3 linked regions of the Homo sapiens genome follow. The protein of the gene in region 2 interacts with the protein of the main gene of each other region in a biochemical or structural test. Each region holds a gene or a part of one and is shown on either strand. Other genes may lie near its edges.

Evidence for each region.
Region 1: the proteins of GAS7 (region 2) and KHDRBS1 form a complex in vitro, tested with the Homo sapiens proteins (one study listed by BioGRID).
Region 3: the proteins of GAS7 (region 2) and NCKAP1 form a complex in vitro, tested with the Homo sapiens proteins (one study listed by BioGRID).

What each region holds. Positions count from the first base shown.
Region 1 is NC_000001.11:32,016,833-32,024,183, reverse strand, and holds part of KHDRBS1 (KH domain-containing, RNA-binding, signal transduction-associated protein 1), read right to left. Parts: intron 1-7,351. UniProt on the Homo sapiens protein: Recruited and tyrosine phosphorylated by several receptor systems, for example the T-cell, leptin and insulin receptors. Once phosphorylated, functions as an adapter protein in signal transduction cascades by binding to SH2 and SH3 domain-containing proteins.
Region 2 is NC_000017.11:10,188,287-10,195,755, forward strand, and holds part of GAS7 (growth arrest-specific protein 7), read right to left. Parts: intron 1-7,469. UniProt on the Homo sapiens protein: May play a role in promoting maturation and morphological differentiation of cerebellar neurons.
Region 3 is NC_000002.12:183,028,142-183,035,492, forward strand, and holds part of NCKAP1 (nck-associated protein 1), read right to left. Parts: intron 1-7,351. UniProt on the Homo sapiens protein: Part of the WAVE complex that regulates lamellipodia formation. The WAVE complex regulates actin filament reorganization via its interaction with the Arp2/3 complex. Actin remodeling activity is regulated by RAC1.

The sequences.
Region 1 (7,351 bases), on a different chromosome or scaffold from region 2:
CCTCCCAGGTTCAAGCAATTCTCCCTACCTCAGCCTCCTGAGTAGCTGGGATTACAAGCATCTGCCACCACGCCCAGCTAAATTTTGTATTTTTAGTAGAAAAAAGGTTTCACCATGTTGGCCAGGCTGGTCTTCAACTCCTGATCTCAGGTGATCCACCCACCTTGGCCTCCCAAAGTGCTGGAATTACAGGCGTGAGCCACCGCGCCAGGCCTCTAACTTCTAATTTCATGCTTTTCCTATTGTCTCTTGATGAGTGTGTGTTTGTGGGGGGCACACTTTATTTAAGCAAGGAAGAGCTGACTTTTATAAAATTTTAAGTACAATTTATACCCTCAGACACTGGCATGTGGCCTAAAGGTAATAAAAGGGCTTTATGGGTGTCTCAGATGTTCAGTTGTCTGATGGTCTGGTCTTTCTTTTTTCTTTTTCAACTCTGTATGTCTCTCCTTGTCCTTGCTTTCCCCGGAGAGCTAGAGTAGACTGAAATGGGAAGACAAAAAATCAAGGAGGAGCTTCCTAAAAATGGTTTAACCTCAGGCAAAAGTACTTTCTAGACAACCCTTTTGGAACTGACTCCTTTAAGTAATCTTTGCTTGGGTCTCTGGAGACCTTGGATATCCCAAGGGCCAAAGAAAACAAAGCTGAGGTGTAAACAACACAAGAGGTGACCCATTTGTTTCCCAGCCACTCAGAATAATCATATCTTATCCAATGCCTTCTATGCGTCAGGAATTTTGTATTTATTATTTCACTTTGTCTTTGTAACCAGTATTATCTTCATTTGACAGATGAAGAAACCCGGGCTCAGAAAAGCTATATAACTTGTCCAAGATCTCAAAACTAATTAGTGACATAGCAGATACTTAAACCCAAGTCACTTCTTATACCAAAGAAAGTAAATTCAGTTAACCTTTCAAAATTTCCTTCATCTTTTACTATAACTTAACCTTTCCCACCCCCCACTTTTGTTTTTTTTGTAGATTTTATCCCAACCAGACTATAAGCTTCCACGTTGCTTAATATATCTTGGAGGAAAGACAAGGGTTTTGAAGCTAGACAAAGTGGGTTTGATTCCCAGCTCTCCTACATGCTTGGTGTATGACTTTAAAAGAGAATGTTAATAAGAAAAATAGTAAGAAAAAAAGAGAGAGGGCGAAAAAGAGATGTAACTCACACAAAAAAAGTTAATATTAGAGAAGTCTGGGAAAATTATATACCAACTTTATCAACTGGTCTGGCTTAACTAAAAAATCAATACAAATATATCATTAACTGAACTTTTTTTTTTTTTGAGACAGGGTCTTGCTCTGTCACCCACACTGGAGTGCAGTGGCGCAATTTTGGCTCACTGCAACCTCCGCCTCCCGGGTTCAAGCAATTCTCCTGTCTCAGCCTCCCGAGTAGCTGGTGACTATAGGCGCATGCCACCACACCTGGCTAATTTTTGTATTTTTAGTAGAGACGGGGTTTCACCGTGTTAGCTAGGATGGTCTCGATCTCCTGACCTTGTGATCCACCTGCCTCGGCCTCCCAAAGTGTTGGGATTACAAGCGTGAGCCACCGCGCCCGGCCAACTGAACGTTTGATATGGCCTGCATAAGGAACAAGACAATGGTCAAGATTTTCTAAGTATCCAGAGCGAGTATTTCTAGGAGAGCAAGATTCTCAGAACTGCTCTAAAAGGTCAGGGTTCATTTCATACCCTCCTCTAGACTCCCACTATACTTGGTTCTACACTTCTAAACACAGCACTCCTCCTTTGCCTGTTGTTAACAATCTCTGGACTCCTTCCATTGCTGAGTGTCTGTAATTCTTAGTACAGTACAATGCTTGATACACAACAGGCATCTATAATCATTAACCGAATTAAAAGAAATGTACCGGCTGGGGCGCGGTGGCTCACACCTGTAATCCCAGCACTTTGGGAGGCCAAGGTGGGCAGGAGATCGAGACTATCCTGGCCAACATGGTGAAACCCTGTTTCTACTATGGTGAAACCCTGTCTCTACTAAAGATTTAAAGATTTACTCTAGCTAAATCTAAAAACTGGTTGGGCGTGGTGGCGCGCTCCTGTAGTCTCAGCTACTCAGGAGGCTGAGAGAGGAGAATCGCTTGAACCCGGGAGGTGGAGGTTGTAGTGAGCCGAGATCATGCCACTGCACTCCAGTCTCCAGCCTGGGTGACAGAGCAAGACTCCATCTCCTTAAAAAAAAAAAAAAAAGAAATGTGCCGCTGGGTGTGGTGCCTCACGCCTATAATCCCAGCACTTTGGGAGGCTGAGGCAGGCAGATAACCTGAGGTCAGAAGTTCAAGACCAGCCTGGCCAACACAGTGAAACCTTGTCTCTACTAAAAATACAAAACTTAGCCAGGCGTGGTGCCGCCTGCCTGTCAAAAATTAGCCAGGTGTGGTGTCATGCGCCTGTAATCCCAGTTACTTGAGAGGCTGAGGCACAAGAATCGCTTGAACCCGGGAAGCAGAGGTTGCAGTGAGCCAAGATTGCGTTACTGCACTCCAGCCTGAGTGACATAGTGAGAACCTGTTTCAAAAAAAAACAAATACAAAAAAGTATGGTTAACACCCTCAACTTCCCTTAAACAACTCACATGACTTTATCATCCCCAAATTTATAATTCTCAACTTTTCTGTTGGTATCATCTTTTGGAATCAGAAGTCCCATAAGCTTACTATTGCAAAACAACTTCATTTGTTTTATTTATCAAATTACTTATTGTTTCAAGCAAGAGCACAAAGCCAATAGGTTCTTTATTTTTTTTGGAATCATGGGTCCCTCTGAGAATTTGATGGAAGCTACTGATTAGCAACCCAGAAAAAAATATAAACTCATAATATATTATATACAATATTGGCTATGGGTATAGAAAGGCTGGGTATTGGTTAAAAAAAAATCCCCCAAAGGCCTGTTACAAGCCCTTTCATATGGGCTCAATTTTTACATTCCAGGACAGTAGAAAACTCTGTCATATTGACTATGGTCTCCCAAATCTTTTCCTTAGTGCACAATTTAGAGCTTTGCAACTTTGAAAATTTTTTTTTTTAATTTTAAGGCAATTTTAGATTTATATGCAGTTCTAAGAAATAACAGAGATCCTGTATACTTTAGTTTTCCCCATAACATTTTGCATATCTGTATCACAATCAGAAAATTAACATTAAAATAAGAAAATTTGTTGTACAGGTTTCATGGAAAAAAAATTAACAATTGACTTTATTAGGATTTCACCACCTTTACATGTACTTGTTTGCTTAGTTCTATGCAATTTAATCAGACTCATGTGACCACCACCTCAGTCAAGATACAGAACAGTTCCATCATGAGGATCCTTACCCTTTGATAGCCAGTCACCGTTTTCCCTCATCTCTCACCACTGGCAACCACTAATATAGTCTTCATCTCCACTATTCTGTTTCTTCAAGAATGTTATATTAATGAAATCATATAGTATGTAACCTTTTGAGATTGGCTTTCTTCACTCAGCTTAATTCTCTTGTGATCAAGCAAGTTGCTGCATTTATTAACAGTTCCTTTTTTTTTTTTTTTTTATTGCACAGTACTGTTCCACTGTATGGGTGTGCCAGTTTATTGGAGGCATTTGGTTTGTTTCCAGTTTTTGGCTACTATGAATAAAGCTGCTGTGAACATTCATGTACAGGTTTTGTGTTGAGTTTTAATTTCCCTGAAATAAATACCCAAGAATGCAACTGTTGAACGATACGGTAAGCACGTTTTTTTTTTGAGACAGGATCTCACTGTTGCCCAAGCTGGAGTGCAGTGGCACGATCTCAGCTCAAGGCAGCCTCGACCTCCTGGGTTCAAGCGATTCTTCCACCTCAGCCTAAGACCAATCTCCTGGGTTCAAGTGATCCTTCTGCTTCAGGCTCCCGGGTAGTTGGGACTATGGGTGTGTGCCGCCATTCTCAGCTAATTTTTAAATTTTCTGTAGAGACAAGCTCTCACTAGGGCTCAAGCAATCCTCTCACCTTGGCCTCCCAAAGTCCTGGGATTACAGGCATGAGCCACCATGCCCAGCCAATAAGCACATTTAGTTTTGTAAAAAACAAAAAACAAACAAACAAACAAAACCTGCATTGGGCTGGGCATGGTGGCTCACACCTGTAACACAGGCACTTTGGGAGGCTGAAGAGGGAGGATCATGGTCAGGAATTTGAGACCAGCCTGGCCAACACGGTGAAACCCCATCTCTACTAAAAATACAAAAATCAGCCGGGCATGGTGGTGGGCGCCTGTAATCCCACCTACTCGGGAGGCTGAGGCAGGAGAACTGCTTGAAACCGAAAGGTAGAGGTAGCAGTCAGCCAAGATCGCGCCACTGCACTCCAGCGTGAGCGACAGAGCGAGACTCAATCTCAAAACAAACAAACAAACAAAAAAACAAAACCTGCAATATCACAGATAAATGTATACTTAATGATATTCTGCTTTATCTTACTAGGCTTTGTTTTATAGAAATAGTATTATACTGTATGTAGTCTTATGGGATGTACTTTCTTCATATAACATTAGATTTTGGAGATTTCTCCATGTTGTTGCCTGCAGCTATAGTTCATCCATTTTCACTGCTGTACAAATATTTTCTTTTTCTTTCTTTCTTTCTTTTTGTTTTTTTTTGAGATTGAGTTTCACTTGTTGGCTAGATCTCAGCTCACTGCAACCTCTGTCTCCCGGGTTTCAGCAATTCTCCTGCCTCAGCCTTCCAAGTAGCCGGCATTACAGGCACCTGCCACCACGCCCAACTAATTTTTGTATTTTTAGTAAAGACAGGGTTTCACCATGTTGGTCAGGCTGGTCTTAAACTCCTGACCTCAGTTAATCCACCCGCCTCTGCCTCCCAAAATGCTGGGATTACAGGCGTGAGAAACTGTGCCCAGCCAAATATTTTCTGTTGTAAATCTATCACATTATCCAATGAATGGTGAAACAAGTTGCAATGTTTTGTGAACAAGGTACACCATTTCATGAATCAAGTGCTCATGTATAAGTTTCTTTGAGCATATTCCTAGAAAAGGTGTTGCTGGTTTTTTGTTTGTTTGTTTGTTTTTTAAGACAGAGTCTCGCTCTGTCGCCCAGGCTGGAGTGCAGTGGCGGCGCAATCTCGGCTCACTGCAAACTCCACCTCCTGGGTTCAAGTGATTCTCCTGCCTCAGCCTCCTGAGTAGCTGGAATTACAGGCTCCCGAGTAGCTAGGATTACAGGCACGTGCCACCACACCCAGCTATCTTTTGTATTTTTAGTAGAGACAGGGTTTCACCATGTTGGTCAGACTGGTCTCGAACTTCTGACCTCAAGTGATCCGACTGCCTTGGCATCCCAAAGTGCTGGGATTACAGGCATGGGCCACCGCACCTGGCCTTACTCTCCAGTTTGTTTGTTTGTTTGTTTTTGAGACGGAGTCTCACTCTGTCCCCCAGGCTGGAGTGCAGTGGCGCGATCTCGGCTCACTGCAAACTCCGCCTCCCGGGTTCACGCCATTCTCCTGCCTCAGCCTCCCCAGTAGCTGGGACTACAGGCGCCCGCCACTGCGCCCGGCTAATTTTTTTGTATCTTTTAGTAGAGACGGGGTTTCACTGTGTTAGCCAGGATGGTCTTGATCTCCTGACCTCGTGATCCACCCGCCTCGGCCTCCCAACGTGCTGGGATTACAGGCGTGAGCCACCGCACCCGGCCTGTTTGCTTTTTTGAGACGGAGTCTCACACTGTCGCCCAGGCTGGAGTGCAGTGGTGCGATCTTGGCTCACTGCAACCTCCGTCTCCTGAGTTCAAATGATCTTCCTGCCTTAGCCTCCTGAGTAGCTGGGATTACAGGCGCCCACCACCACACCAGGGGTAATTTTTTGTATTTTTAGTAGAGACAGGGTTTCACCACGTTGGCCAGGCTGGTCTCGAACTCCTGACCTCGTGCTTTGCCTGCCTCGGCCTCCCAAAGTGCTGGGATTACAGGCATGAGCCACCAGGCCCGGCCCTTATTTTCCAGTTTTAAAAGCAGGTTTTGCTAGCCCTGTAGAATGAACTGGGAAGGTCTTAATGTATTTCTAGAGAATACTGTAAATAAAGGAATTAACTATTTTGAAGTTTCAACAGACTTTGTAAATGTTTTCCACTGTATGCTTTTGAAGGATGGATTTTTGAGTATCTCTCCAAGATCTTTTGCAGATTGCTAATCTATTCAAAATGTTTATTCTTGAGTCACTTATACTAACTTGTATTTCCCTAATTGTAGAAAGTAGAAAAATAGGCCGGGCGCAGTGGCTCATGCCTGTAATTCCAGCACTTTGGGAGGCCGAGGCAGGCGGATCACCTGAGGTCGGGAGTTTGAGACCAGCCTGACCAACATGGAGAAACCCCGTCTCTACTAAAAATACGAAATTAGCCGGGCGTGGTGGCACATGCCTATAATCCCAGCTACCAGGGAAGCTGAGGCAGGAGAATTGCTTGAACCTGGGAGGTGGAGGTTGCGGTGAGCCAAGATCGCGCCATTGCACTCCAGCCTGGGCAACAAAAGTGCAACTCCGTCTCAAAAAAAAAAAAAAAAAAAAAAAAGTAGAAAAAGAACACTGGTATCTATACAACAGCATTTTACTTACTATATAAATATATTAACACAATAAGGTAAATTATTTCTCTTCCAGAAAACAAAGATAGATGATTGAATCCTTATGTCTGCAGACACATTCGAATATATACAACAGCATTTTACTTAGTATATAAATATATTAACACAATAAGGTAAATTATTTCTCTTCCAGAAAACAAAGATGGATGATTGAATCCTTATGTCTGCAGATACATTCGACAGTCATCACAGCTGAATATCAATCTGGCTAACATAGAAGTCTACATTCAAAATCTACATCCCTCAAAATTTTGTCTTTTTTTTTTTTTTGAGACGGAGTCTTGCTTCTTCACCCAGGCTGGAGTGCAATGGTGCAATCTGGGCTCACTGTAACCTCCAACTCCCGGTTTCAAGTGATTCTCCTGCCTCAGCCTCCCAAGTAGCTGGGATTACAGGCATGTGCCACCACGCCCGGCTAATTTTTGTATTTTTGGTAGAGACGGGGTTTCACCATGTTGGCCAGGCTGGTCTTGAACTCCTGACCTCAAGTGATCCGTCTGCCTCAGCCTCCCAAAGTGTTGGGATTATAGGTGTGAGCCACCGTGCACGGCTGTCATCATTTTTTCATCAGTCCCATCTTCAATGAAGGTGAATATGTATTATTTCGTGAAATATTTAATAAGAGGCCACTCTGTGCAGCACTCTTCAAGGCATAGAAGATACAACGGTGAACAAAGTAGACAAAAGATTCCTGC
Region 2 (7,469 bases):
CCGCATGTTCTGACCTGCTAAGCGCAGGTAAACCTGATTTTAACTAGTTCCTTCTGGTGTACATTGAGGTTGTTGTTCATCTTGTGCTATCAGAGGCTGTGATGTAATATACGCTGATATTTACAGCTTGCCTGATATATCAGATGCTCCCTGAGAAGAAATTTCTAGAAGTGGAATTGTACAGTGCCAAATGGTCCTTCAGGAAGCTCAGGACCATTTCCTTACACCCTGCCAATACCATTTTTTTTTTACATATTTCTGTCTTCAAGCTGTTTTTTAATTAAATTTGCAATTATTCAATCACTGGCGAGACTAAATAGTTGAGGACTTTTTATATGGTTTTGTGTGTGTGTGTGTTCATTTGTTTTAAGAGACAGAGTCTCACGCTTTCACTCAGGCTAGAGTGCAGTGGTGCAGTCTTGGCTCACTGCAGCTTTGACCTCCCGGGTTCAAGCGATCCTCCCACCTGAGCCTCCTGAGTAGCTGGGGCTACAGGCATGAACCATCACACCCAGCTAATTTTTTTGTATTTATAGAGAAAAAATTTGGGTTTCCCCATGTTGCCCAGGCTGGTCTTGAACTCCTGGGCTCAAACAATCTGCCCACCTTAACCTCCCAAAGTGCTGGGATTATAGGCATGAGCCACCATGCCCAGCCTGTATATGTTTTATTATGAAGTGTCTATCCAAGTTCCTTGCCCATTCTTATACTGATATGTTCCTCTTTGTTTTGGGTTTTGTTGTTTTAATTTATAAAAGCACTTTCTACATTAAGGAACTTTTTCCAAATTTGTATTTGCCTTTTACCTCCTTTTTTTTGGGAAGAGATTTCTAGTGGCAGAATAAAGGATGGACAGATGGGGAAAATACAAAAGGGAAAAAGTGCATTACAAGTGACCTGCAAGAAGTGAGACCCCCTGAGGTTCCCTTACTCCCTCCGATCAACACACCAGCAAGACCTGTTGACACTAGCTGCAACATACATTCCAAATCCACACACCTCTCACCATCTCCACTTCCACCACCCTGCTCTGAGCTTCCCAACTGGTCTCCTTGCCTCCCCTCCCTGTTTTCTTCAAATCCATTCTCCACCCTGCAGTCTAGAAGAGCTTTCCAGAACGCATCCGAAGATGCCACCCACTTCAATCAAACCAAAGGCTTTTCCACTGCATTTAGAAAATGACCCATCTCCCCAGGTTCTATCTCCTTCCCCGGCACACCCCCAACCCCTCTCCCCCTACTTGCCACTCTAACCATTCTGGAATATTCTGGCTCTCCCAGGTTTATCAAACACACTCCTCTACTCAGGGTTATGTACATCTGCAGTCCCCCTCAGCCTCAAATTATTTTCCCCCAAATAGTCACATGGCTGGCTGGGCACAGTGGCTCAAGCCTGTAATCCCAGCACTTTGGGAGGCCAAGGAGGGTGGATCACTTGAGGCCAGGAGTTGGAGACCAGCCTGGCCAACATGGCAAAACCCTATCTCTACTAAAAATACAAAAATTAGCCGGCTGTGGTGGCGGGTGCCTATAGTCCCAACTACTTGGGAAGCTGAGGCATGAAAATCATTTGAACCCAGGAGGTAGAGGCTGCAGTGAGCCGAGATCACACCACTGCACTTCAGCCTGGGCAACAGAGCAAGATTCCATCTCCCAAAAAAAAAAAAAAGTTGAAAACAAATCAAAAGAAGAATAATACTTCACGGCCCATGAAAATTATAACAAATTCAAATTTCAGTCCATAAATAAAGTTTTATTGGAACACAGGCACGCCCATTGGCTTTCGGATTATCTCTGGCTGCTTTTGCACTACAGCAGCAGAGTGGATTAGTTGTGACAGAGACCATATGGGATGCTCTCACTGCTTGTCACTGCCTCTGGCGCACTACAGATCACACCGATGCAGCCGTAACTCAGTTTTGCCTCATGGCCCACACAGCCTAAAATGTTTCCTGGCCTTTTACAGAAAGATTTGCCAACGCAAGTTAAGAAGGAGAAGGCTTTAAGAAATGTTTCTGGCCGGGCGCAGTGGCTCATGCCTGTAACCCTAGCACTTTGGGAGGCCAAGGCGGGCGGATCATGAGGTCAGGAGTTTGAGTCCAGCCTGACCAGCGTGGTGAAACCCCATCTCTATTAAAAATACAAAAATTAGCCGGGCGTGGTGGTGCGTGCCTGTAATAGCTACTCAGGAGGCTGAGGCAGGAGAATCGCTTGAACCCAGGAGGTGGAGGTTGCAGTGAGCCAAGATCGTGCCTTTACACTCCAGCCTGAGCGACAGAGCAAGACTCCGTCTCAAAAAAAAAAAAAAGAAAAAAAGAAATGCTTCTAAGGAAGAAGGGAAGGGACGAGGCTTGCTAGCCTACTGAACAGGAGAGGAAAGGTAAGGGGAGAGATATCAGGGAACTTGGTGGACAGATGGTGGTGACATTCACTAAAGTTTAGAGCAGGGGTGTCCAATCTTTTGGCTTCCCTGGGCCACACTGAAAGAAGAAAAATTATATTGGGCCTCACATAAAATACACTAACGCTACTATAGCTGATGAGCTAAAAAATATATATCTCACAAAAAAAAAAAACCCTCATGTTTTAAGAAAGTTTACAAACCTAAGAACAGGCACGGTGGTTCACGCCTGTAATCCCAGCACTTTGGGAGGCCAAGGCAGGTGGATCACCTGAGGTGGGAAGTTCAAGACCAGACTGACCAACATGGAGAAATCCCATCTCTACTAAAAATACAAAACTAGCCGGGTGTGGTGGCGCATGCCCGTAATCCCAGCTACCCAGGAGGCTGAGGTAGGAGGATCGCTAGAACCCAGGAGGCAGAGGTTACAGTGAGCCGAGATCACGCCATTGTACTCCAGCCTGGGCAACGAGAGCGGAACTCCGTCTCAAAAAAAAAAAAAGAAAGTTTCCAAATTTGTGTTGGGCCCCATTCAAAGGCCATCCTGGGCCACATGTTCCACAAGCTTGGTTTAGAGGTTGGGAACAGAAGGCAGTGAAGAGGCTGGGCACGGTGGCTCATGCCTGTAATCTCAGCACTTTGGGAGGCCAAGGTGGGAGGATCACTTGAGCCCAAGAGTTTGAGACCAGTCTGAGAAACATGGTGAAACCCTGTCTCTACAAAAAATACAAAAATTAGCCAGGCATGGTGGCAGGTGCCTATAGTCCAAGCTACTTGGAGGATCGTTTGAGCCCAGGAGGTCAAGGCAGCAGTGAGCCATGATCATGCCACTATACTCCAGCCTGGGCAACAGAGCAAGACCCTGTGTCAAAAAAAAAAAAAAAAAAGGCAGTAAGGAGAGGAGAGAGGGCTGGGCACGGTGGCTCACGCCTGTAATCCCAGCACTTTGGGAGGCTGAGGCGGGTGAATCACAAAGTCAGGAGTTCGAGACCAGCCTGGCCAACCTGGTGAAACCCCACCTCTACTAAAAATACAAAAATTAGCCAGGCATGGTGGTGGAAGCCTGTAATCACAGCTACTCAGGAGGCTGAGGCAGGAGAATCACTTGAACCCAGGAGGCGGAGGTTGTAGTGAGCCGAGATCACGCCACTGCACTCCAGCCTGGGCAACAAAGCAAGACTCCATCTCAAAAAAAAAAAAAAAAAAGAGGAGAGAGATGATGAGTTTAGTTTTGACATATGAAATTTGAGTACCTAGAGGTTGAATCTGAAAACCAGCTCCAAGCTCAAGAAGAGTAGTAGACGGAGAACTAGGAAGTTAAACTAAAAACAAATTCTTAAAGATGGTAGGGAAGACAGAAAACGTGAAGAAAGGAGGTGGGTGGATCCTCTTAAGACTCCTCAAAAACTTCTCACAGTTCATATACCTACTGCAACTAAACTTTCACAACGTCACAACATGTTCTGGTCAGCCAAGGAAAAGCCAGAGAGATCTGCCAGCCGCCACTTCTTCTTCTCGCCATAGGCATAAATACCACCCCAGAAGCCTCGCCATTGCAGGGAGACAGAGAAATATACTAATTTTGCATTTAAGTACAGAGGAATCCCTCCTGACATTTTGTTAGAAAGCCTGTCATGTGTCGCCTTGCTGCTGTGAGTAATAAGACAGCACAGTCCCCTGGGCTGGCCTGATAATAGTCAAAATACCTTACATGTACACAAGGTTTCCTGGTTTACCAAAAAACATTTTCTTTCACCAGCGAAGTGAGGATCAGTATCCGTGTTCACAGACAAGGTCTACCACACCATCAGAAAAAAGCTGGGCTTTTCCAGACTGAGAAGAGTACGTGAAGGTCAGCCTCTCATTCATGTTTCTAGGTGGTAACAGACATCAGGGATCCACAGAGCGGTGAACAGATGTCAGGGATTCCCGCCGACTTGTTGCTAAGGGAACTTTTGTGAAAATGCCCTGAATCCACTCAATCCATAAGCCTTGCTCATTGCTTTAAAGTCCTGTGGGGTAGCCACTGACCAGTCCAGCACACAAGTGTGACAAAAGAGGTGGTTCCTTCTGAGCTGAGGCTGACAGAGTGGTGGGCCAAAGGTCATTTTCTAACACCAGGAGCTACAAATACTGGCCACAGCCCCCATACCAAGGAGGAGGGTGATTTAGTGAAGATGTCAGAAAGCACGCTGGTCTTTTCAGTCACAATTACCCACCCCTCCGAGCCACAAGCCCTAATTGCACCTTTTGTGAACAGAGTTGATGACTGACTGAAAAATACTAGCATGAGGGACAAGGTCACACTCATTTTGGGTGATTTTCATGTTGCAGAAAGAAAGGAAAAGGCTCTGTATTAAAATCAATTTGTGTAATATAGCAAACATCTATTAGATGTCAGGGAGCTCAGATCCACTATGTCTATGAATCATCAGCACTGAACAGCCCTGGCCTAAAAAAAGCTGGACTGGTATGTCAATGGCTTAGTGGACAGGCCCAGAGCCAGGCAAATCTGATTTCAAATTCCAGCTGCATCGTTTATCATGTGGCCTTTAGAAAGAAACCTCTAGAGTCAAAAAAAAAAAAAAAAAACCCTCCAAGGATTGCGATAGAGGTAGAACTGCCAAGTCTCTGCATTTTACCTCCCTCTTGGGGTTCTCTCTCTCATCAGTCTGGCCCAGCACTACCTCCTCACTAATGGATCATCTGTCCCATGTATGTTCTCCCTAGCCTTCTGAGGGAGCTAGTCTGCAATATGGCCCTCGATGAACCACGCCTCCCTCATAACCGCACCTGTACCCACCTCCCTTCCAAATTGACTCTGGACAGACCTGTGACTACTTTCCCAATAGAATGTGGCAGAAACGATATGCCAGTTCTGGGCCCAGACCTTAAGAGGGCCTGGCAATGTATGCCTTTGCATTCTTAGAAGCCAGCTACCACATAACTCCTGAAGAGAAAGGCCATGTGGAAAGGCCCTGGAGAATGAAACACTACATGGAGAAAGGCGCCACATGGAAGAACATCAAAGCACCAGACAGGTGAGTGAAGATGACATTTTGGAGGCTGCAGTCTAGTTGAGCCTCCAAGACTCTGCCCCAGCCACCATCTGATTGCAACTGCATGAGAGACACTGAGACAGACCAGCAGAAGAACCACCCAGCTGAGCCCCGTCAATCCACAAAACCATGCCAGATAATAAGAAATTGTTGCTTTGAAACACTAAATCTTGGAGTGGCTTGTTACATGGCAATAGATAAAACATCATTCCTTAATTATCCATAGCACAGCCCACTCTCTCCCACAGACACTCCTTATCAACTCCTGCAGCACAACTGCATGAACCCAAAATGGGAGAACAAAGGGTAGAGTGAAGAAAATCAAGTTTAACGGTGACCCTCAGCAGCCATTCTAGTTGTGCCAGCAAACAGTGTCATATTCTGTTAGTAACCCAGAAAGAAAGGAAAAGGCTCTTTTTAGGAAAGAGAAAAGGTCCAGATTATCCAGCCAGATCCTGGATTCTAAGAATACCACCTAGTTCAAAGAAAGCTCTATTTTGTTTGCATTCCAATCCCATTGTCCCCCAGAATTATTTCCCAAAAGCTCTGGGAAGTTTTGTAGATGCCTTACAACATTCCCCAGGTCCCTAATTTCTTCTCTCCATTCAAGGAAAGTACAGGCCACAGGAATTCCTGGACCCTATTAAACCCTCCAACCACTGACCTGTCCAGCCACTGGGCTTGTCCTGGTACCATGTCTTTCTCTCCAAATTTTCCCCAGGATGGAGATCTAGGATTCTCTATCCACCTTCCCCAGGAGCTATTTCTCAGCCTTGATGTACCCTAGAAAGCTGGTGGAAATATTCCCACATGTGGGGTTCCCAGGTCTATGGAGGCAATCTCAGGCCTAGCTTGGAGCTGGCAGAACATGCTCCCACAGCTCCTATCTCTGGTCTCAGGTCTCTTCCTCTACCATATCTCTCAAATGATGTTAAAAAGACTTCTCGGCCGGGCACAGTGGCTCACGCCTGTAATCCCAGCACTTTGGGAGGCCGAGGCGGGTGGATCACAAGGTGAGGAGATCGAGACCATGCTGGCTAACACGGCGAAACCTCACCTCTACTCAAAATACAACTGCACTCCAGCCTGAGCAACAGTGCGAGACTCTGTCTCAAAAAAAAAAAAAAAAAAAAAAAAAGACTTCTTAATTCCTGTCCCTCGTCATAGCAGAAGAAACCCTCAGGAAAGATTTTTCTAGTTGATTTTATCTAATAACCAGCTGTGGGCCTTGGCTGTAAGGCCTATTCCTTTTCTGGAGGTAGGTGTTTCCCTCTGCCCATCCTTTGAAGAGCTGCACCACCCCGAGTAGGAAGAACCCTTGTGGCCAGAGTCCTTGGGCCTACCAGAGACCTCTACACTTCCCTGCCTGTGCTGAGGTTTTCCTGGAAGCTGCTCTCTGGAAGCCAAGTATGTGCTATACCATTTCCTTGGAGTCTTGACCAAAGAGATTGCCCCAAAAACCAAGACCTCCTCCAAGCTGGCCTCCTCCCAAGGGCTAGCTGGCCACTGGGTCAGATCTGGTGACTCTCTTGGAGTTAGCTCCCAACTCCCCTCCCCCGTGTATGCTTCCTGCAAAGGCTGGGTCTCTCGGTTCCCCTTGCTTCATCTGAACAAGGAAGATCTCCTTGGGAAGTATCCAGTGTGCACACAGTATTCAGTGCCTCCCTCCCCTCCACCAAGATGGGGTTTCCTAGTATCACTCTTTCTATCAGGGTGAAAGTTCCGCTGGAGTAGGGAGCACATTAGAGATGCCATATTCATCTGTGTACCCACAATCCCATCCCTAGGCCAGGAGGCTAGTACAGTCCATCTGTCTGTACTTGTTTCTCCAACAGCTGCCCTGGCCTTCTGAACTCCATGCTCCCAAGCAAGCTGAGTGACAGCACCACATTGGCTGACATCTCATGAGGTTCGCCATCTCCAGTATCTATGGGCCCCCTCTCTAGTCTCATGAGTCCAGATGCTGGCCAGTCTACCCACCAGCCTGGGGACCTCTGCATTCTCTGAGTC
Region 3 (7,351 bases), on a different chromosome or scaffold from region 2:
ACAGTGTAAAATGATGTCTAAATCCCTGAATTTTATAGCCCTACCAAAAAAAAAACTTTTTCAGAGAATTGACTAAAAGAGGTATTTCACTACACAGAAAGAAAACTATGCATAAAGTACAGAATTGAAAAAACAAAAACTCCCCCAAGTACCCTGTTTTACTTTATCTTGAGTCAGCATATTTTCATAAAACATAAAATACTATAATTTCAAATTTCAGAAGATCTAAAATAAATTTAAATATTTATATACTTAAATTTCCAGTTCTCAGAATTGGAACTTTATTCTCCATGAATATTCTAATTATAATATTTTAAAAGTCAGGATTATTTTATGTGACAGATAAAATTACAGTGATGTTAAAGGATACACTTAAACATAGTAATTAAAACCCTTGTCTCTTGGGTCAAGTGCATAATAGCCTATATGACCTTAGGCAAGTTGCCTAACCTCTCAGCCTCAGTTACCTAACCCATAAATTGAGGATATTATTACTACCTACTGCATAGGGTACACTGTTAAAATATTTAAAAGATAAGATACACATAAACTGTTTATTTAGGTGCCTGGCACATATGTAGTTAATAAATAAGTTCCAAATATTTTTTTAAATAAAACTTCTTTATATACATGGATACACATAGTGAGTTCTCAATTATGGAAACAAGATTTTCCATAAAAACAATTCTAGGCTGGGCTCAGTGGCTCACGCCTGTAATCCCAGCACTTTGGGAGGCCGAGGTGGGCAGATCGCGAGGTCAGGAGTTCAAGACCAGCCTAGCCAACACGGTGAAACCCCGTTTCTACTAAAAATACAAAAAAAAAAAAATAGCCAGGTATGGTCTGGCGCCTGTAATCCCAGCTACTCGGGAGGCTGAGGCAGGAGAATCGCTTGAACCCGGAAGGCGCAGGTTGCAGTGAGCCAAGATCGCGCCACTGCACTCCAGCCTGGGCAACAAGAGTGAAACTCTGTCTCAAAAGAAACAAAAAAAAAACTATAGGTCAGTAGTCAATTCAATATCTCTAAGTTCCTTTTAAAACACAAATCTGATGTTATCAGTAAAAATGAAGGACAAGGATGTTTCAGAAAACTACACAATATATTATCCGGGCCACAAAAGAAACATCTTTGATTAGAAACATCAAGCCTAGACCCTATGCCATTTTAAAGTATGACTTTAAAACACATCTTTCTGCCACTCTACCACAAACCCCCATACTGAGGCCTTTCCTCAAGCTATTACAGCATAGGATTACATACCACAGCTTAACTTTACATGGTTAATGTTACTATTTTTCCAAGAACTTACCATGATGCCAAAAAAAAAAAATACAGATTTTTAAAATTCCTCTATCTATTCACAAGAGATTAAGCAACAATCAAGACACCAAAAAAAAAAGACTGCTCAGTAGCTCACACCTGCAATCCCAGCACTTGCGGAGGCCAAGGCAGGAGAATTGCTGGAGCCCACAAGTTTGAGACCACCTTGGGCAAGAGGGAGACCCTGTCTCTACAAAATGTTTAAAAATTAGCCAAACGTGGTGGTAAATATCTGTGGTCCCAGCTACCTGGGAGGCTAAGATGGAAGGACTGCTTGAGCCAGGGAGGTTGAGTCTACAGTGAGCCCTGTTCACAACCACTGCAAACTCCAGCCTAGGCAAGAGTGAGACCCTGACTCGAAAAAAAAAAAAAAAAAAAGAGAGAGAAGGAAAAAAAACAACAAAATAATCAAGATACAAAAGATGTTGGAAGTAAAAAGAACATTTACTGTGCAATTATTGTGTGCAAAACACCTATGCTTTAGAAATTATCTAAATTATCACTCAACAGAAAGGAAAGGAGCTTCTGAAAAATTAAGTAACTTGATCAAGATTTCACAACTACTGACAGGACCTACAGAGAAATTCATACCTGATTCCAAAACACTATCTAAAAATATATGTCCCCTCCCAAAAATAATGTTTAAAAACATGCTCCACTTATTCAAAACCTCCGCTGCTTAAAACCTCAGGAAGCAGTTGCTATCACGGTAAAAATCTGATCAGTTCAATCCATTTTATTTTTTTGAGACAGCATCTTGCTATATTGCCCAGGCTGGACTTGAACTCCTGGTCTCAAGAGATCCTTCTGCCTCAGCCTCCTAAGTACCTGGGATTACAAGCACGCACTACTACTGTGCCTAGCTTCAGTTTTATTTTTTAATTTCTATTCTAACTCAGGAATAAAACACATTCCTTTGCTAAAATATGGAAGAACAATTATTTTCTAGTACAATAATTGGAAAAATGCCAAAATAGGGAAGAACAAAATGATTTTCTAGTACAATGAATTAACTGAAAAAATATGAACAAGATCTCAGGAGTCAGAGTGAGAATGCTATTCGTGAGGGCACAGAAACCAGCCCCATCTGAATAATGTCAAGGATGAGGAGAAAAATACAAAATGTGGCCAATTTAGACTCGAAAGAGGAATTTGACTTAATAACCAAGAAACACCACACGTTTTGCAAAATTGAAGGAATAAAGGGACAAAGATTCTTCCCTGAGTTTTCAACAAATTGAAATTAATACCTAGAGGAAGAATAGACGTTACCTGAAATTATGGAATGTAAAAGTAATATATACCTATGATTATTTTATGTTCCAATTTTTTAAATAATGAAAATATTACAGTATGAAAATTGTCCATAAGTACTGGAAAACTTTATATCAAGAGCAAAATAAGACTCAAATTCATCAGTAGTTAGCTTTCCGATTATTTTTTTCCTCCTGTGTTATGATGTATATTTTGGCCAACCGATCTGCTTTAAGTTAGCACTTTCCCTCTTAGGTAGGTAAAAAGAAAAGAGAGCAATCTACTGCTAGTAACTTGGATTAAGAGGCTTGATAACAAAGTATACTGAAATTATTGGAAATGCTTTCAAATTAATGTAATTTTATCAATAACTACCTCTTAATTGGAGCCAATAATTGAGATCTAAAAATATAGAAATCACAGTTATTGTCCTTTAGACACAAGTTCTGAGAAAGTCATGAACTTGAAAAACTTCAACCCATTATACACTTCAAAATTAGTGATTCAAAAAAAAGAAAAAAATTTAGTGATTCAAATGAGTTATTAATTACCATTCCATTTACAAGAAGATATATATGTCACTGTTGCCTTTAAACAGTTTTCAGCTTCCAATATACAGGATCATCTCAGTTTATGAAGCAAAGGTGTTTTTGCAGTTTTTTAAAGTATATATATTGTCATACCTTTGCGGTTAAAAAGAAATTGTTATTTAAAGGACTACTGTGGAACACATACTTCTGAAATACAAATAATTATTCTGTCTTAGCAGTAAGTAGATGTCAAACTGTATCAGGCAGTAAAATAGAATAGTGAGGAATGTTTCCTAAAAGGTAGTCTTGAGCTTAATTTAATCTGGGGGTGGGGGGGAATGAACATTTATTAAGTGTCCACTATGTTCCAAGCCCCAGAAATAGAACTAGTAACAACAGCCACCATTTCCTCAGCTCTTACGCTTGCTACAAGGCACTGTACCAATACTTCCTATGGATTCACTCATTTAATTCTCCTCTTAACCTATGAGGTTAATAAAAGCGTATTCCAAAAACGTGAGATAACTGGAATATCTATTTAAGATTACAAGAGTTAGAATCAATAAGACTAGCAAGGCTTAGAAAGCCAAAAAATACAGCTTGAAGCATAACAGAAGCTGAGAGCAAATAAGTACCATGGAGCTGGTTTTGCTAGTAGACAGCCAATGTGCAGCCTTCCAGAAATTTAGTTATAACCCAGACAACTAAATTAAATCACCACAGTTAATAATTAGCAGGAAAAGAAATTACAGGTATTTAAGAATTTACATTTCAGTTATTTCAGTAGTTAACATTGGAACAATTTCAGGGATTTTTTTCTGTTCAAGTTAAGTTTGGGTCAGGATCCAGATGTATGGAATTTGGAAAAACCTTCCAAGAGGATTCTATTATGTATCCCTGGCTAGGAACCACTGATCTCCTCACTTTGTAAGTAACCTACAGCCCAGAAATGTTAAATAACTTGTTCAAACTAAAAAAAAAGTATCAGAGCATTATCTAGAATCTAGCTCTCTCAACTCACAGAATATTCTGCAAGTACGGAAAATGTTTAGAAAATAAGTGAAGTTTAGAGGTTATATGCCTGCAAGAAGAGCATTACTATTTTATACTCTAACACAGTCATGCATTGCTTAATGTCATCAGATGATTTCATCATTGTGTGAACATCAGAGCGTACTTACATAAACCTAGATGGTATAGCCTACTATACACCCAGGGTACATGGGATATAGCCTACTGCTTTCATGCTACAAACCCGTACAATGAGAATACTGCAGGCAATTGCAACATAATGGTATGTATTTTTGTATCTAAATGTATCTAAACATAAAAAAAAACAGTAAGAATACAGTGTTATCTTATGGGACTACTGTGTATAGGCAGTCCATCATTTCAGTGTTATGTGAAATATCATTATGCAGAATGACTGTATTTTGTTATCTTTATACAGATGCTCCTCAACTTAACAATAGGGTTACATTCCAATAAACCTATCTTTAATTGAAAATATCATAAATCAGCCAGGTGCGGTAGCTTACACCTGTAATCCCAGTACTTTGGCAGGCTGAAGCGAGTGGATTGCTCGACCCCAGGAGACAGAGACCAGCCTGGGCAACACGGTGAAACCCCAACTCTATCAAAAAAAATACAAAAATTAGCCTGGCATGGTGGCATGTGCCTATAGTCCCAGCTACTCAGAAGGCTGAGGTGGGAGGATCGCCTGAGCCAGGAGGCAGAGGCTGCAGTGAGCTGAGATCGTGCCATTGTACTCCAGCTTGTATGACAGAGCTAGACCCTGTCTCCAAAAAAAGAGAAGAAATGCATTTAACACACCTAACCTACCTAACATCATAGTTTAGCCTAGCCTACCTTAAACACTTACATTAGACTACAGTTGAGTAAATTATCTGGTAATACAGTACACTGCAGAGTATCAGATCACAAGAAAGTATCATACCACTTCCTACTGCATGCCATAGCTTTTGTGCCAACAAGAAGTCAACAAATTGTTAAGTCAAACCATCACAAGTTGGGGACCCTCTGTATATCCTACTGAATAAAAACTCTGCAATCTGAAATAGTAACTAGTTAGTTTCTGTCACTGGCTGCCTGAAGTTTCTATTCATACTTCAAAACCAAGTACAAATGTGACTCTCCTCTTTACCATCTCTCCCAGATTATAATCCTTAATTCCCTTCTCAAGACTCCGACAATCCTACTTACACACTGCATTTTAGTTAAATATCTATACATCTCTCTCCCCACTAAGACACTAATTTCTTGGCACTAGAGACTTCATCTTAATTTACCTCTATTTCCCTCATGCCAGGGAACACATTCAATAAACGAAGAGTAAATGAATAAATTAAAAGGGAAAACCTCAATATTTGAGAGTAACTGAAAGAATAGCTCATATGATGGCTTATAAAACAGTTTTAAAGATGCAATTTTATTACTATCTAAAATAGTCAACTATGCAATAACAAAGCATTTTCCAGTATGGGTTCTTCTACTTAAAACAAGAGAATCATTTCAAACTGGCACATATACAACCCTACTTACAAACTAACAATTCAGTAGCTTATAAAGTTATAAAGATGGGCAGACAGTGAATTTTTGAAGTCACTCATTTATGTTATGTTTGAGTTTTTGACAATAAACATATATTCCTCTGGTAATCATTAAAAAATTTTAAAGTTACTTAACAATTCCATAAAGGAAACAAAAGATGGATTATTTATCATTGCTACTTAAAAATTAAAAATAATTATTTTCCTAAGCATCTCTGGAACACGCTTCTGCATCTGATTGACCAAAAGAGAAAATAACACCCTAAGTGGAAACAAATACAATACTGAAAGGGAAGACTAAAACCAGTTCCCCTCCCTTTACCCTGCACTGCTCCCTTCACAAACATCTTTTCTTCCCCCACTAAATAAGCAGATACTGGCTAAAGACTTTCAATTTTACAATGCTAGTCCTGTTAAACTTTTCCTTAGAAAATAAATTTATCCAAAATAATGAGAAAAGGATAGGGAAAAAAAGAAAAATATTCCTCTAATGTTTTTAAAGAAGTAAAACTGCATTTAAACCACCACAATACTCCACTTTAAAAAGTTTGTAATAGTTGTATGGGTTTTTTTTTTTTTCTCATTCTCTGACCTTTACAGTACAGGCAGAAATTTAACAGGAGGAAAAGACGCAAGTATTAACTAAGATCTTTTTAATACAGAGATTAATCTCATGTTGGTAATGGTGGAGGAAAAGAAAGGAGAAGGAAAAAAAGAAGAGAGTAAACCACACACACAAAAATTTAACTGAGCAAAATGTTTTCTTTGGGTATTTGGCAGTTTTGTTGAACAGTTATACAATTTCAGAAAAACAATGTTGCCCAAAAGAGATGCTCAGATTCCTAAATACTATTTTCACATATTACCATCCTCTACCTTCAGAAGCAATTCTGTGAAGTATGTAGGGCAGGCATTATGCTCCCTACATTACAGAAAACTAAACTGAGTTCAGTTATTGTTTAAAATGAAACATAATTTCTACTCTACTACTTCACCATAAAATCATAAAGATAGAGCTGGAATAGACTTTAGTGTTCCTTTTACAGTTAATTTTCCCCATTTTACAGATGAGGAAAAGTGAAGCTCAAGAAAGTCAAATTACTAACCAATGTTAGAGAACTCTCAGTGACAGAATGAAGATTGGAATGCAAGTCTCTTAACTTCTGGCCCAGTGCTCTTAATCCCACCACCACACAAGTTGCCATGCTGGAACCTTTAAAAATGTTACAAATCTCTACATGAGTGAGTCACATTATTAGGTCTGCAAAAGGGAAACCATATATTTAAAAACAAAAAAAAAGGAATTAAGCAACAAATAAATTTAAATGTAAAGCTACCAACAACCTTCAAGTCTTTTCCCTAAAATCCGCTTTTATGTGTTCCTACATCCTCCGTCAAACTACAAGTTCCCTAAAATTCCCATAAATTGTAAATATTAAGATCTCAAAATTTTTGACTGATGAAATTAAAAAAAAAAAACATTCTTCAGTAATCATGCTCCAACTTCCCTAATAAGCGCCAAAGCATATTACTGACAATAATAAGTTATTTTACTTAACTATTTTTCATTGTATATGTTCACTAAAATATCATTTCCACTGTATACTTCCAATTGAAACAGAGTAATTAGATCTGGTAGACAATCTAATGCACATGCATTAATGAAAATGTGATAA